3 separate regions of the Homo sapiens genome follow, and all the other regions are linked to region 3. The links come from fine-mapping of genetic effects on gene expression. A gene starts in region 3. Each other region holds a variant in brackets. All regions are shown on one strand. Distances are from middle to middle. Region 1 overlaps RYR1 (ryanodine receptor 1). Region 2 overlaps RYR1 (ryanodine receptor 1). Region 3 holds the start of MAP4K1 (mitogen-activated protein kinase kinase kinase kinase 1).

Region 1 (4,099 bases), 70 kb after region 3:
ACTCAGGAGGCTGAGGCAGGAGAATCGCTTGAACCCAGGAGGCGGAGGTTGCACTGAGCTGAGATTGCACCACTGCACTCCAGCCTGGGCAACAAGAGCAAAACTCCGTCTCAAAAAAAAAAAAAAAAAAAAAAAAGGAAAGGAAAGGGAAATCATGATGGAGTAAATAGTAAATAGAAAACATTTGGGCAATGTGGGTGAAAGGTATTCAGAAATTCTATGTGCTGTTCTTGCAACGTCTCTATAAACCTGAAGTTATTTCAAAATAAAAAGTTAACAAAATGGTAACATTAAAGATCAGGGAGTAGTAATAGCAGCTAACATCTCTTGAGGACTCACCATATTCCAGGTACTGCCCGCACTGCCCATCCTCACAATAGTTAATAGTTGTTTTATTTTTATTTTTATAGATACAGGGTTTCACTAGGTTGCCCAGGCTGATCTCGAACTCTTGGGCTCAAGCGATCCTCCCACCTCGGCCTCCCAAATTGCTGGGATTATAGGCATGAACCACCGCACACTGCCAATAGTTAGTGGTTAATGTGATTATCCTATCCCCATTTTACAGAGTAGGAAACTGAGGCTCAGAAGAAAAGATGGAGAGTTAGGATGGGAGAGGTGGTTAGAGGAGGAGGAGTGGGTTTCTGAATAAGGATGTTCCAGCACTTCCCTCCTAGCAGGCTCATTATTTAGACTTGGAATGGTCTAGTTAGTGACTGCCTCCCCCATTAGACTATAAACCCATGAAAGCACGGGCTGTGTCTATCTTGGTCATTGATGCGTCAATAGTGTCACTACAGGCCCTACACAGAGAAGAAAGCCAGCCAATGTTTATTGATGGAATAACTGATGCCTATTCACAATAATGATAATGTTATGACTATCAATAAAGATAACAGTAATAACGGTTCTCATCTGTGTTAATGCATTTCATCCTCAAAATAACCCAAGGGGGCTGAGCGAGGTGGCTCATGCCTATAATCCCAGCACTTTGGGAGGCCAAGGTAGGAGAATTGTTGGAGCCCAAGAGTTCAAGAGGAGCCTGGGTAATGTAGTGAGACCACATCTCTACAAAAAATAAACTTAAAAATTAGCCAGGCATGATGTCACACACCCGTCGTCCCAACTACTCAGGAGGCTGAGGTGGGAGGATTGCTTAAGCCAGGAGGTCAAGGCTGCAGTGAGCTATGATCACGCCACTGCACTCCAGCCTGGGCAACAGAGAAAGACCTTGTCTCTAAAATGAAATAAAACAGAATACATATAACCCAAGGACTGTTTTATCCTCATTTTACAAACAAGGAAAGTGAGGCTTGCAGAGATGTCTCTTGCCTGAGGCAGCCAGCCAGAAGGGTATGGCTGGCCCTTGGCAACCCCACCCAAGTCCTGGGCCCACACGATGTCCCACACCCACCTTCTGGAAGTCCTTCTTGGAGATGAGGCCACGGGGATCCGTTACGTAGTCCTGGAAGGCTTCAGAGCCCACAATGTCCTTGAGTTTCAGGAACATGTCGAAGAACTTGAGGATCATCTCCACATTGGATGAGGATTCCACGAGCATGTCCACCATCTGCCGGGCGATCATGCCGTTCACCACGTTCCCTGCAGGCAGCCCCAGGTCAGTGTGGCCGGTGAACACTCCCTTCTGGGGCCCCACCAGGCTTGCCTCTCTTTCCAGCCCAGGAGCCACCACGCTGCTGGAGTGTCCCTGGCCAGCCACAGCCTCCCCTCCACAGGTCCCTTCCTGACCTGCGTCAGCCTCCTGTGCCAACCTGGCTGATCCTGCCTTTGCCCACCTCCCCCAGTAAAGCTAATGATGTCAGGTCGGACGTGGTGGCTCACGCCTGTAATCCCAGCACTTTGGGAGACCGAGGTGGGTGGATCACTTGAGGCCAGGAGTTTGAGACCAGCCTGGCCAACATGGTGAAACCCCGTCTCTATTAAAAATACAAAATCAGCTGGGCGTGGTGGCATGTGCTTGTATTTCCAGCTACTTGGGAGGCTGAGGCACGAGAATTGCTTGAACCTGGGAGGCGGAGGTTGCAGAGCCGAGATCGTGCCACTGCACTCCAGCCTGGGTGATGGAGTGAGACTCTGTCTCAAAAAAAAAAAAAAAGATAATGATGATGTACGCTAAAGGTAGGTGCCAAATGCTACCCTGGCACAATCACACAAAAAGGGAAGTGTGTGACTCTACTTTTAGGAAGAGAAACTGAGACA[T/C]AGAGAAAGTCATGCACTCAAAGTTACATAGCCAGTAAAGTGGGGAGAATGGATTTGAACTCAGAGCTGCATGACCTCAGGGCTTACACAACTAAAACTTCCACCAGTACACACAGTCAGGAGGGTCCACAGAAGACTGAGGCTAGCCAGTGGTAAGCAGCAAGGAGAGGTAGAGATTGGCAAACTGCGATCCCACACTCCCTCTAAAGGCAGCAGCTGAAGCTTGGCTCCAGTTTATTTTTGTAATTTTTAAATTTTAATGTAGGCTGGGCGCAGTGGCTCAAGTCTGTAATCCCAGCACTTTGGGAGGCTGAGGCGGGAGGATCACGAAGTCAGGAGATCCAGACCATCCTGACCAACATGGTGAAACCCCGTCTCTACTAAAAATACAAAAAAAAAAAAAAAAAAATTAGCCAGGTGTGGTGGCGGGCGCCTGTAGTCCCAGCTACCGGGGAGGCCAAGCAGGAGAATGGCGTGAACCTGGGAGGCGGAGCTTGCAGTGAGCCGAGATCGCGCCACCGCACCTCCAGCCTGAGCGGCAGAGCGAGACTCCGTCTCAGAAAAGAAAAAAAAAAAAAAGGGATCCTAATATATCCACATTCATCAATTGTTTATCTTTTGCCACATTTGGACATTTGGTTTGTTTTTGGGGTTTGTTTTTTTGAGACAGGGTCTTGCTCTGTCACCCAGGCTGGAGTGCAGTGGTGTGATCACAGCTCACTGCAGCCTGGACCTCCCGGGCTCTGGTGATCCTCCCACCTCAGCCTCCCGAGTAGCTGGGTCTACAGGCACACACCACCACACTAGGCTAATTTTTGTATTTTTAGTAGAGACAGGGTCTCACCATGTTGCCCAGGCTGGTCTCAAACTCCTGACTTCAGGTGATCTTCCCACCTCGGCCTCCCAAAGTGCTGGGATTACAGGTGTAGCCACCGCATCTGGCCTATTATGGCTTCTTCATCAACCCATGGATCCTGACACGATGTCAGATGGGGTTGAGGATTAGGGTCTCCCGGGTCTCAGGGGGCCATTCTCAGGCTTCTCTGAACCTCTTTACTGTTCCCTCACCCTCACTCCTGGGTGTTTACCTTCTAGTAGCGACAGCAACATCACCACCATGTCCTTCTGCAGATCCAGCAGCTCCTTCAGCAGCTCGATCTGGCTTGAGTCCTAGAGATCCCAGCTCGGTGAGGGCTGGTCTCAGCATACACCTCCCCCACCTCTGTTGCTTCTCCCCCTCCTCACCTACCCAGCAGGGCCTAAACCCGTTTTCTCCCCTCTTACCTCCGAGGGGACCCGAGTCCAGACATGTTCCTCGGAAGCAGGGGAAGGGGCAGAGAGACAAGATTGTGGGGGTGGGGTTGGCACTTGGGGGACGGGCTCGATAGGTGATGGGTAGTGGGAAGGCTGGCAGACAAGGAGGACTGAGAGGCTTGCGGGGCAGACATTTGGGGCAGAGAGAGACAGAGACAGACAGAGACAAACACTGGGGACAGAGACCCAGGTCTAGGAAGGGATGTGAGCCCAGCACTGTGCCTGGCCTACGGTGGGATTGACAGATGTATGTTGAATATAATGTGTGATGGCAAGAGTGGGACTCTGGGTTCAGGAGGAAGGCTGCAGAGACAGCCATGTGCTTTCTGGTAAGCCGTCTGCGGGGAACATAGGGCCACAGTGTAGGGCCCATAGAAACCTCCAATACAAAGTTTTGCCTCATGGCCCCTATTTATGTTAGGTTGAGTCACATAAAATTGCCAACATGTGATCACTTTTGGCTCACAAAGTGGTAATTTCTTTCTTTTTGAGACAGAGTTTTGCTCTTGTTGCCCAGGCCGGAATGTAATGGCGCAATCTCGGCTCACTGCAACTTCTGCCTCCC
Region 2 (4,099 bases), 90 kb after region 3:
ACACATAATAAGCATTTGATGAATGGCTGCCTGCTACTGTCAGCAGCAGCGGCAGCAGCTGCGCCATCTGCATCACAATTATTTATTACTAAGCCTGTCATTAGCCTACATGAAGCTTTTGAGGGAATTACAGAAAACCTCCCCACTACTTCTGTCTGTTGGAAATTTGTCATACATATGGATTTTTTTCATAATATACTGATTTTATTTGAGCAAGACACTTTCTTCTAGAAAAGCCTAGTTAATCTACATTGTCTGTGATACGAACCCCTCAGACATGCCCTTGTGAAGTGTTCAGCCATGCAACGGTGTATGTTGGCTGTGCCTGTCCTAGCAAAGTGACATTTACGTTCCTTTTCTTTTCTTTTTGAGACAGAGTCTCGCTCTGTCGCCCAGGCTGGAGTGCAGTGGTATGATCTCGGCTCACTGCAACCTCCGCCTCCCAGGTTCAAGCGATTCTTCCGCCTCAGCCTCCTGAGTAGATGGGATTACAAGTGCCCACCACCAAGCCTGGCTATTTATTGTATTTTTGTAGAAACGGGGTTTTGCCATATTGGCCAGGCTGGTCTTGAACTCCTGGGCTCAAGTGATTGCCTGCCTCAGCCTCCCAGATTGCTGGGACTACAGGCGTGAGCCACCGTGCCTGACCAGCAAAGTGATATTTAAAGATCCGTCTGTCTTGGGCTCCCCCAGGACCTGGAGGGCCTCTCCTGAGGCACAGGGAAGCTGCTGGGCTGGGGGTGGCCCCAGGACCTTGGGGGCATTTCTGGGGCCCTGGCAAGAGTCTTCACCTCTTTTCCGTCAGGGCAGTGCGGCTGAAGTGCAGGACCAACTGGTGCAGGGGGTCTGGCTTCTTCTCTTCCACCTCTTCCTCCTCCTCCTCCTGCTCCCCAGCTTTCTGGTGGGAGAGGGGAGACTTGGGGAGAGGGTTTCTAGAGTCCCCTCCTGTCACTGCCCCCATGTCCCTGTTGGTCTGGATTTTTTTTTCTCTTTTCCCACATCCTGCGCCCTACTTTGGTTCTACTCAAGCCAGGAGCTGGCATTTCTATACCCCTTGATGTGGAGGGCCGACCCCTGGAGGTGTGCCAAGGGTGGCCTCCGCCCCAGCCCTATCCAGCTCGCCCCCCACTCCCCCAGGCGGGTCCCAGCTCACTGAAAGGTCATCTATCATGCGGTCCTCAAAACTGTGGTCTTCAGTCAGGATCCATGCAGCCTTGTAGCTCTCCAGGAACATGTTACATGCCCGGTGCCTGCAGGGGAGAGGTGTGACGTCACTGGGACGCGCCCTCCTCCGTGCTTCCCGACCTCCCATGCGCCTGCAGCCCCCAACCACCCTCAAGGCCCCATCACGTTGGCCCTCCATTCTCCAGACTCTCCAGCCACCCTTTCTCCGCAGCCCTTCACGCTTCCCTTGTCCCTGGGGGCCTTACGTGGGCAGGTTGTACAGGGGCGTCATACGGAAACAGGCCACGACTGCCCGCCGGCGCTGTTTGGACAAAAGCTTGTGCCACACGGCCTTCTTAGACTTGTAAGGGTGCTCGGTCTGGGGAGGGGATAGCAGGACAGTCACATCCCCAGACCCTGCCCCTCTCACTCCCAGCCCTGGATGAAACTGCCCAGCTGTGTCGAAGTCCATATTCAGGTTAAGACTCACACGGCAGAAGGAAAACCTTGTCTCCACCAACAGAGTCAGGGTCCTGACTCCGCCTCCAGACCTAAGTTTCCATCCTAGGCCAGGTCCCACAGAGCCAGGACCACGA[G/C]CCAGGCCACGACCAATTCTACGACCCACCCAAGGCCCTGCCCACAAACTCAACGCATCTCCTCTAGGCCCCACCCCTAGACCTAAAGATCTGCCCCTTCCCTGTCCCGCCCCCAGATGCAAGATTAAGCAGCAGACCCCTCCCCCGATCCATTCTAAGCCTCGCCTTAAACTCGAGGCTCCACCTCCTGCCCTGCCCCAAAACTTAATAGTCATCTCCAGACCCCACCCACATCCTTGAAGCCCCTCCCCCCGCCAGGCTCCGCCCAGAGACCCAGTAGAAAGACCCCTCCGGCCCCACCCACCTGGTCCAGGTAGTAGAGCACGGCTGACACTTCCTGGACTCTGCGCACGATTTTCTCGGGGTCATCGGCGTCCTCCTCGCGACCCGGGACGCCCCGGTACAGAGCCATCTGCCAGCGCAGAGACGGGGAGCCTTCGACCTGAAGGGAGGAAGAAGGAGTGGCCGGCGTGAGGGACCCTTCCCACAGTGTCCGCCGGATGTCCCCTTTCCGTTTTTGGGAGGACTCAATGGGTGAGTGCATGTTGAGGCCTTTCTTCTTCTTCATCTTTTTGTTTTGAGACGGAGCCTCGCCCCATCACCCAGGCTGGAGTGCAGTGGTGCGATCTCAGCTCACTGCAACCTCTGCCTCCTGGGCTCAAGCGATTCTCCTGCTTCAGCCTCCTGAGTAGCCGGGACTACAGGCACCCGCCATCACACCCAGCTAATTTTGTACTTTTAGTAGAGACGGGGTTTCACCACGTTGGCCAGGCTGGTCTCGAACTCCTAACCTCAGGTGATCTGCCCGCCTTGGCCTTCCAAAGTGTTGGGATTACAGGCATGAGCCATTGTGCCCGGCCTAATTGTTGTATTTTTAGTAGAAACATGGTTTCGCCACATTGGCCAGGCTGGTCTCAAACTCCTGACCTTTGAGGTCTTTCTTCAATGCCTGGTCTTTGGTAAATGCTCAAACCTTCACTAATATTGTGGTTACTTTCTGACTTGCTTCTTTTGCTTGCAGAGGAAGGAGGCATACCTTTCCCTGAAGGTGAAGGTTGTTGTGCAGAAATTCCCGGACCTCCTCATCTGTGTCTTTCTGGGGAGACAGAGCCAGGCTGGGTCACTCTGGAGGTCCCATCCTCCTTCCTGACCCACAACCCTTTCCTTCCAGGCCCAGCACCCCAGGAACTGAAGAGGTTTTTCTGGGGTGGGGGTGGGGGTCTGAGAGAAACAAAAGGATGCAGAGGTTGACGGGGTCAGAAGGGGTCCTAGAGGGGCCGGAGGGTCACAGAGTCACCTTGAAGATACAGTAAGGATTCGAGGGGCCTCGTGGAGGTCTGGGAAGAGGCAAAGGGTGACAAGAGGATCTCATCAAAGGTCAAATATGGCCAAAGAGGGATGACTGGGGGGTCAGAGTGGGGCAGGGAGTCTTTGAAGATCAGAAGGGGTCAGCAGAGGTCATGGGGGATCACGTAGGTCAACGGAGTCACTGGTTACACAGGGGCCAAAGGGGGCATCAGCAGGGTGGGGGTTCACTGGGGTTCTAGGACGGGGAGCCCTCAAGGACCAAGGTGAGGGGTCCATGGAGCCCTGGAGGGCTCTCTGGCGTCCTGGCAGGACTCAGCAGTCCTGGGAGGTGCCTGAGGTTCTGAGGGAAGGGGTGTCCTGGTGGTAGCAGGGGAGAAGTCGGTGGTCTTTAGGGGTCCAGGGGGTTAGTAGGTTGTCAGGGTGTTGGTGTGGTCCTGGGGGGAGGGCTATAGGGGTCTTGGGGCAGAATCCTGGGAGGGTTCCTTAGAGTCCCTGAAGCTGGAAAGGATCGGAGAGGAGGGAGATTGTCCTTGTTGTCCCACACAAGGGGTAAGTGGGGTCCCGGGAGGCCTCCTTGATATCCCAGCAAGCTTAAGAGGTTCTACAGCCCGGGTATTTTGGTCTCCAGGACAGTTGAGACCTCAGAGGTTTGGGTACAGTCCCGGGCTTGGGGTTCATGGATCCTGGGGAGTTATGCAGGGTCGCAGGGCTCCCTGAGCCCCTGAGAGTCTTGGGGGCTTAGTTGGGCTTCAACAGGGCCCAGGTGTCAGCAGGGTCCTGAAGGAAAGGGATGGTGAGCCAAGGGCTCAGCAGGAACCCAGAGGTTCAGTCTTGGCAGGGAGGGAAGGAGGGGTCATGAGGGTCTCAGTAGGTCCCAAGGGGCTTGAAGGGGCCTTGGTGGAGGGTTCAGAGGATCTCAGGGGCTCATCTTGTTGGGGGGACTCTCAGGGTCTCAGCAGGTTTGGCATGGTCCGGTGGGGGGGCAGTGGGGTCCTGCAGTCCTCATGCGGGTCCCAGGGGTCCTAGAGCTT
Region 3 (4,099 bases):
TCCTGAATGTCTCTGCTACTCACCCCTTCCTCCCCTGTTCAGGCCTCCACCCTGATCCAGCCCCATCCTCTCCTGCCTACCTCGCTGCCTACTTCCTCCATGTCCACCTGAACACTCTGGCCTTTGCTTCCCCCATTTCAGTTCTAATCTCTCCCGGCTATCGCTGTCTGCTGTCAGGTTTGTCTCCCTTATGGAAAGGGAACTCAGACCGTGAAGGCATGATCTGCCGCTGTCTGATTCGCCTGTGGTTCCCAGCATTGCCTAGCACTGACAGTTTATTTCAGTAAACGTGTGGAGAATGAATGACTTATAGAGCAGAGAAGGGAGAGATTAAGAGGCACTCAAAGGAGGCGGAGCAGAGAAGGAAACCTTAAGGCAATTTACGAAGAGACTGAGTGGTACCAAGATTCTCTCGCTTCTAGGCCTTTGCAGTGCTTTTGTTTCTTTCTTTTAGAGACGGGGTTTGGCTGTTGCCCAGGCTGGTCTCTAACTCCTGGGCTCAGGCGACCCACCTACCTCGGCCTCCCAAAGTGCTAGGATCACAGGCGTGAGCCACTACCCCCAGCTCAGTGCCGTTTCTTTAAGCATCTCCTCCTCCAGGAGGATAGAGAAACCCCACCCCGCGGCAAGCCCAGGACCCTGAACACCCCTTGCTGTCTCCGGAAAACCCTCTCCTCCGCCCCGCTTGGCCAGAGCGCTTCCTCCAACCGGGCTCAGACCTGTCGATACCCTTGAGCAACTTGCCCACGTTGGCTCTCATCTGCTCAAACATCGCCATGACTTCTGTCGCCTTCCACAACCAGGGCTGGAGGCTAACACTGACCCGGCACGGCGTCCTCAAGGACGGGAACAGGAAGAGGTGGTGGAAACGGAAACGACGTCGTTGTTGTCGCTCCAGCTCCTTGGGTGCGGTAAAGGGAAAGGCTCTAGCAGCAGCCGCCACGCTTTCCGGCTGCCACGTGACTTCTTCCTCGCAGGCGCAATTGGCGCGTGCGCATTCGCGCCACTCAAGCTGGACAGACAGCGTGAGAAAAATCTTACTGGATCCCAGTGCGCAGGCGCCTCTCGTGGCGAGGGGGCGGGGCTAAGCTTTTCCCGGGCCTCACAGACCCAGTTCCAGTGCCGGTAGCGCGGGAGCGTGCGCGCGCGAACTCACCGGGAAGCACCCGGAGCTCTGGCGGCGTGCGCGCGCGTTGTATTGCGCGCGGCCATGAGGCCACGGAGCTCTGCGGGAATGCACGCAGCAGCCTTACGTTTAGGCCATGGCCAAGTTCCGAGGGAGGTGTTCTGAGGTCCCTCTTGCCACAGGCCTGGGCGCCTGGTGCAGGATCCTGAGCTCTCCAGTTTCAAGTCTCAGCCCTTGGTCCCCAGCTCCAGGAGGAGGGTCCCACAAAGCTACTGTGCTCTGCCGGGCAGGGGCTGGGGTGAGGGCTCCTGGACTTCGCCGGATCGCGCCCCGTCTCCATTAGGTTCCGGTCTTGGAGCTGAGGGCGAGCGTCCCATTTGTACTGCCATGAATTATATATTATGTATAGGTTTTGTACACTGCAGGCCTACAAAATGCAGTTATGTGCCATGCATGTGGAGGTATATGTCCTGGGTACATCCACGTGTGTACTGTGCACACAGGTATCCAGGCAGATGCACGTCTACACGCCTGCGCAGTGCAGAGGAGGTAACCCAAGTGCATGTATGTGACAGGTGAACAGGCATGTACACTGCATAGCCATCCCTTTGCAGACCTGCCGCCTTCGGGTTGTGGCCAAACCTTCAAGCACCCAGCAGAGGTTTAGACACTACCTAGGAGACGGGGGCGGGGGTTCTAAGGCACCCCCCTCCAACCCAGTTACGATTAAGATCATTTGCATCACATTTACATCCAGCCCTGGGCCTTGGAGGTTGAGGGTGGTCCCTTGGGTCCCAAGACAAGCTGCCCCTCAGAGGCTCTCAGAGCCCAGGGGACGGGGGGGTGGAGCCCGTTGCACAGTCGTGCAGTGCAGCTGGGGCAGGAAGCGAGAGTGAGGAGGGGGGAGGCCACAGCCCGCGGAGGCAAGGCGGGTGCAGGGCTTCTGGGGACGGAGGGAGGTGCCAGAAGTTGAGCCCTGAGGCCCTGCTGGCCCCTGGGCGCAGGCCCAGCTCAGGCCCCCAGGGATGGACGTCGTGGACCCTGACATTTTCAATAGAGACCCCCGGGACCACTATGACCTGCTACAGCGGCTGGGTGGCGGCACGTATGGGGAAGTCTTTAAGGTGAGGAAGCCCCTCTGTCCCCAACACCCTACAACCAGTGACCTTTAAGGCAAGCCCTCGGCAGGGAGGAGGCTGCAAGAGGGGGTCCCAGTTCTTGACCTTGACTCAGGGATGCTGTGGAGGGACTCTGGCAAATGGAGCCTGCCTGACTGCCAACTTCCCCTTTGCAAGGCTCGAGACAAGGTGTCAGGGGACCTGGTGGCACTGAAGATGGTGAAGATGGAGCCTGGTGAGGAGGGAACATGGAGCTCCTTCCCCACATCCCCACCTTCGCCTCCTGGGACACTGGGATCACCTCCCCTGTAGCTCTCTCCCCATGCGAGCTGCCTTTTCTCTCCCGCCCTCCTCACAGATGATGATGTCTCCACCCTTCAGAAGGAAATCCTCATATTGAAAACTTGCCGGCACGCCAACATCGTGGCCTACCATGGGAGTTATCTCTGGTGATGAACCTCAGACCCACCCTGGCACCCAGCCCAGCCCCTAACCCGGAGTCCCCATTTCTTGATGGGGGTACCCTCAGTTCTTTTTTTTTCTTTTCTTTTTCTTTTTTGAGATGGAGTCTTGTTCTGTTGCCAGGCTGGAGTGCAGTGGCATGATCTCAGCTCACTGCAACCTCTGCCTCCTGGGTTCAAGCAATTCTCTGCCTCAGACTCCCGAGTAGCTGGGATTACAGGCGCTCACCACCCTGCCCGGCAAATTTTTGTATTTTTAGTAGAGATGGGGTTTCACCATCTTGGCCAGGCTGGTCTTGAACTCCTGACCTTGTGATCCACTCGCCTCGGCCTCCGAAAGTGCTGGGATTACAGGTGTGATCCACCGCGCCTGGTCTTGGCACCCTCAGTTCTAACCTTGAACTTCCATTTCTCACCATAACCCGACCTCCCATCCTGGACCCCCATTTTTGACTGGGCTAACCCTACCATGATCCTCACTCCTAAGTCCCACTTTTCTGACCAGAGCAGCCTCTAATCTAATCTCCAATCTAAAATTCCCATTTCTGACCAAGAGTACCCCAAATTGATCTCTTCATAGTAACTGAATTTGAAATCAACTCCCTTGAAACGAAGCTCTCACCATTCTGCTCTTTGGCTCACCCAGTTTCACTCTCTGCTCCTTTAATATAAACTCCTAAATTCCCTGATCCCCAAATTAATATTCCAGATGCCCCAATAATGACCTCTGCTCCCCAGAACAGGTGCCCTGGGCCCCTCTGTCCCCTCCAAATCTCCACAACCCGTGAGATCTCTGCCCTGCCTCCTAGGTTGGCGTGGGACGGCAGTGGGGTCCCGCCCAAAGGCCTAGGTTTGAGTTGACTTGCCCCGGAACTCACATTTCCTCTCTGAGCCTTAACTTCCTTGTCTGTAAAATGGGAATGAAACAACCTCACTCTGGTAGACAAGGAGAGGTGGAGTGATGAGAGCTGTTACGTTAAAGTTCTTATTGAACTAGAACAAGACAGAAGCAAACCAGGGGCTTTCCTGCAAATAATAATGTATTTACTGCTATTATTATTCTTACTCTTGAACCACTGCAGGTTGCAGAAACTCTGGATCTGCATGGAATTCTGTGGGGCTGGTTCTCTCCAGGACATCTACCAAGGTTAGAGAAAGGACAACGGGACCCAAGCACCCCTCCCTATCCCCACCCCCCAACCCCGACCCAAATTCACCTCTTCCGTCTCTGTGTGTGTATCTCACAGGAACTGTCTTTCTGGGCCATATTTCAAACTCCTGGGCTGAGCTGATCCTCTTGCCTTCAGCTGTCGAAGTGCTGAAACTACGGGCTTGAGCCACTGTGCCTGGCTTTTTTTTTTTTTTTTTTTAATATAACTGCTGGGCCTGGTGTG

Evidence for each region. PIP is the estimated chance that this variant, and not a neighbour inherited with it, causes the effect.
Region 1: its variant is fine-mapped to the expression of MAP4K1 in whole blood (TOPMed, PIP above 0.99). The same link has a PIP of 0.9 or more in blood mononuclear cells.
Region 2: its variant is fine-mapped to the expression of MAP4K1 in whole blood (TOPMed, PIP 0.91).

What each region holds. Positions count from the first base shown.
Region 1 is chr19:38,545,736-38,549,834 of GRCh38, reverse strand. It overlaps RYR1 (ryanodine receptor 1), which reads right to left. Exons shown (of 106, transcript NM_000540.3): 88 at 3,309-3,390; 89 at 1,415-1,602. Among named protein-coding and RNA genes, the nearest start is that of MAP4K1-AS1, 49 kb to the left of the region's middle. The variant T/C (reference allele first, on the strand shown) is at 2,221.
Region 2 is chr19:38,525,750-38,529,848 of GRCh38, reverse strand. It overlaps RYR1 (ryanodine receptor 1), which reads right to left. Exons shown (of 106, transcript NM_000540.3): 72 at 2,797-2,856; 73 at 2,065-2,202; 74 at 1,431-1,543; 75 at 1,154-1,250; 76 at 792-898. Among named protein-coding and RNA genes, the nearest start is that of MAP4K1-AS1, 69 kb to the left of the region's middle. The variant G/C (reference allele first, on the strand shown) is at 1,761.
Region 3 is chr19:38,615,948-38,620,046 of GRCh38, reverse strand. MAP4K1 (mitogen-activated protein kinase kinase kinase kinase 1) reads left to right here and starts at 2,094. Exons shown (of 31, transcript NM_001042600.3): 1 at 2,094-2,250; 2 at 2,422-2,479; 3 at 2,603-2,693; 4 at 3,788-3,852. The coding sequence starts at 2,152. It overlaps EIF3K (eukaryotic translation initiation factor 3 subunit K), which reads right to left and starts at 859. Exons shown (of 8, transcript NM_013234.4): 1 at 720-859. The coding sequence starts at 778. RefSeq lists an enhancer at 1,521-1,570.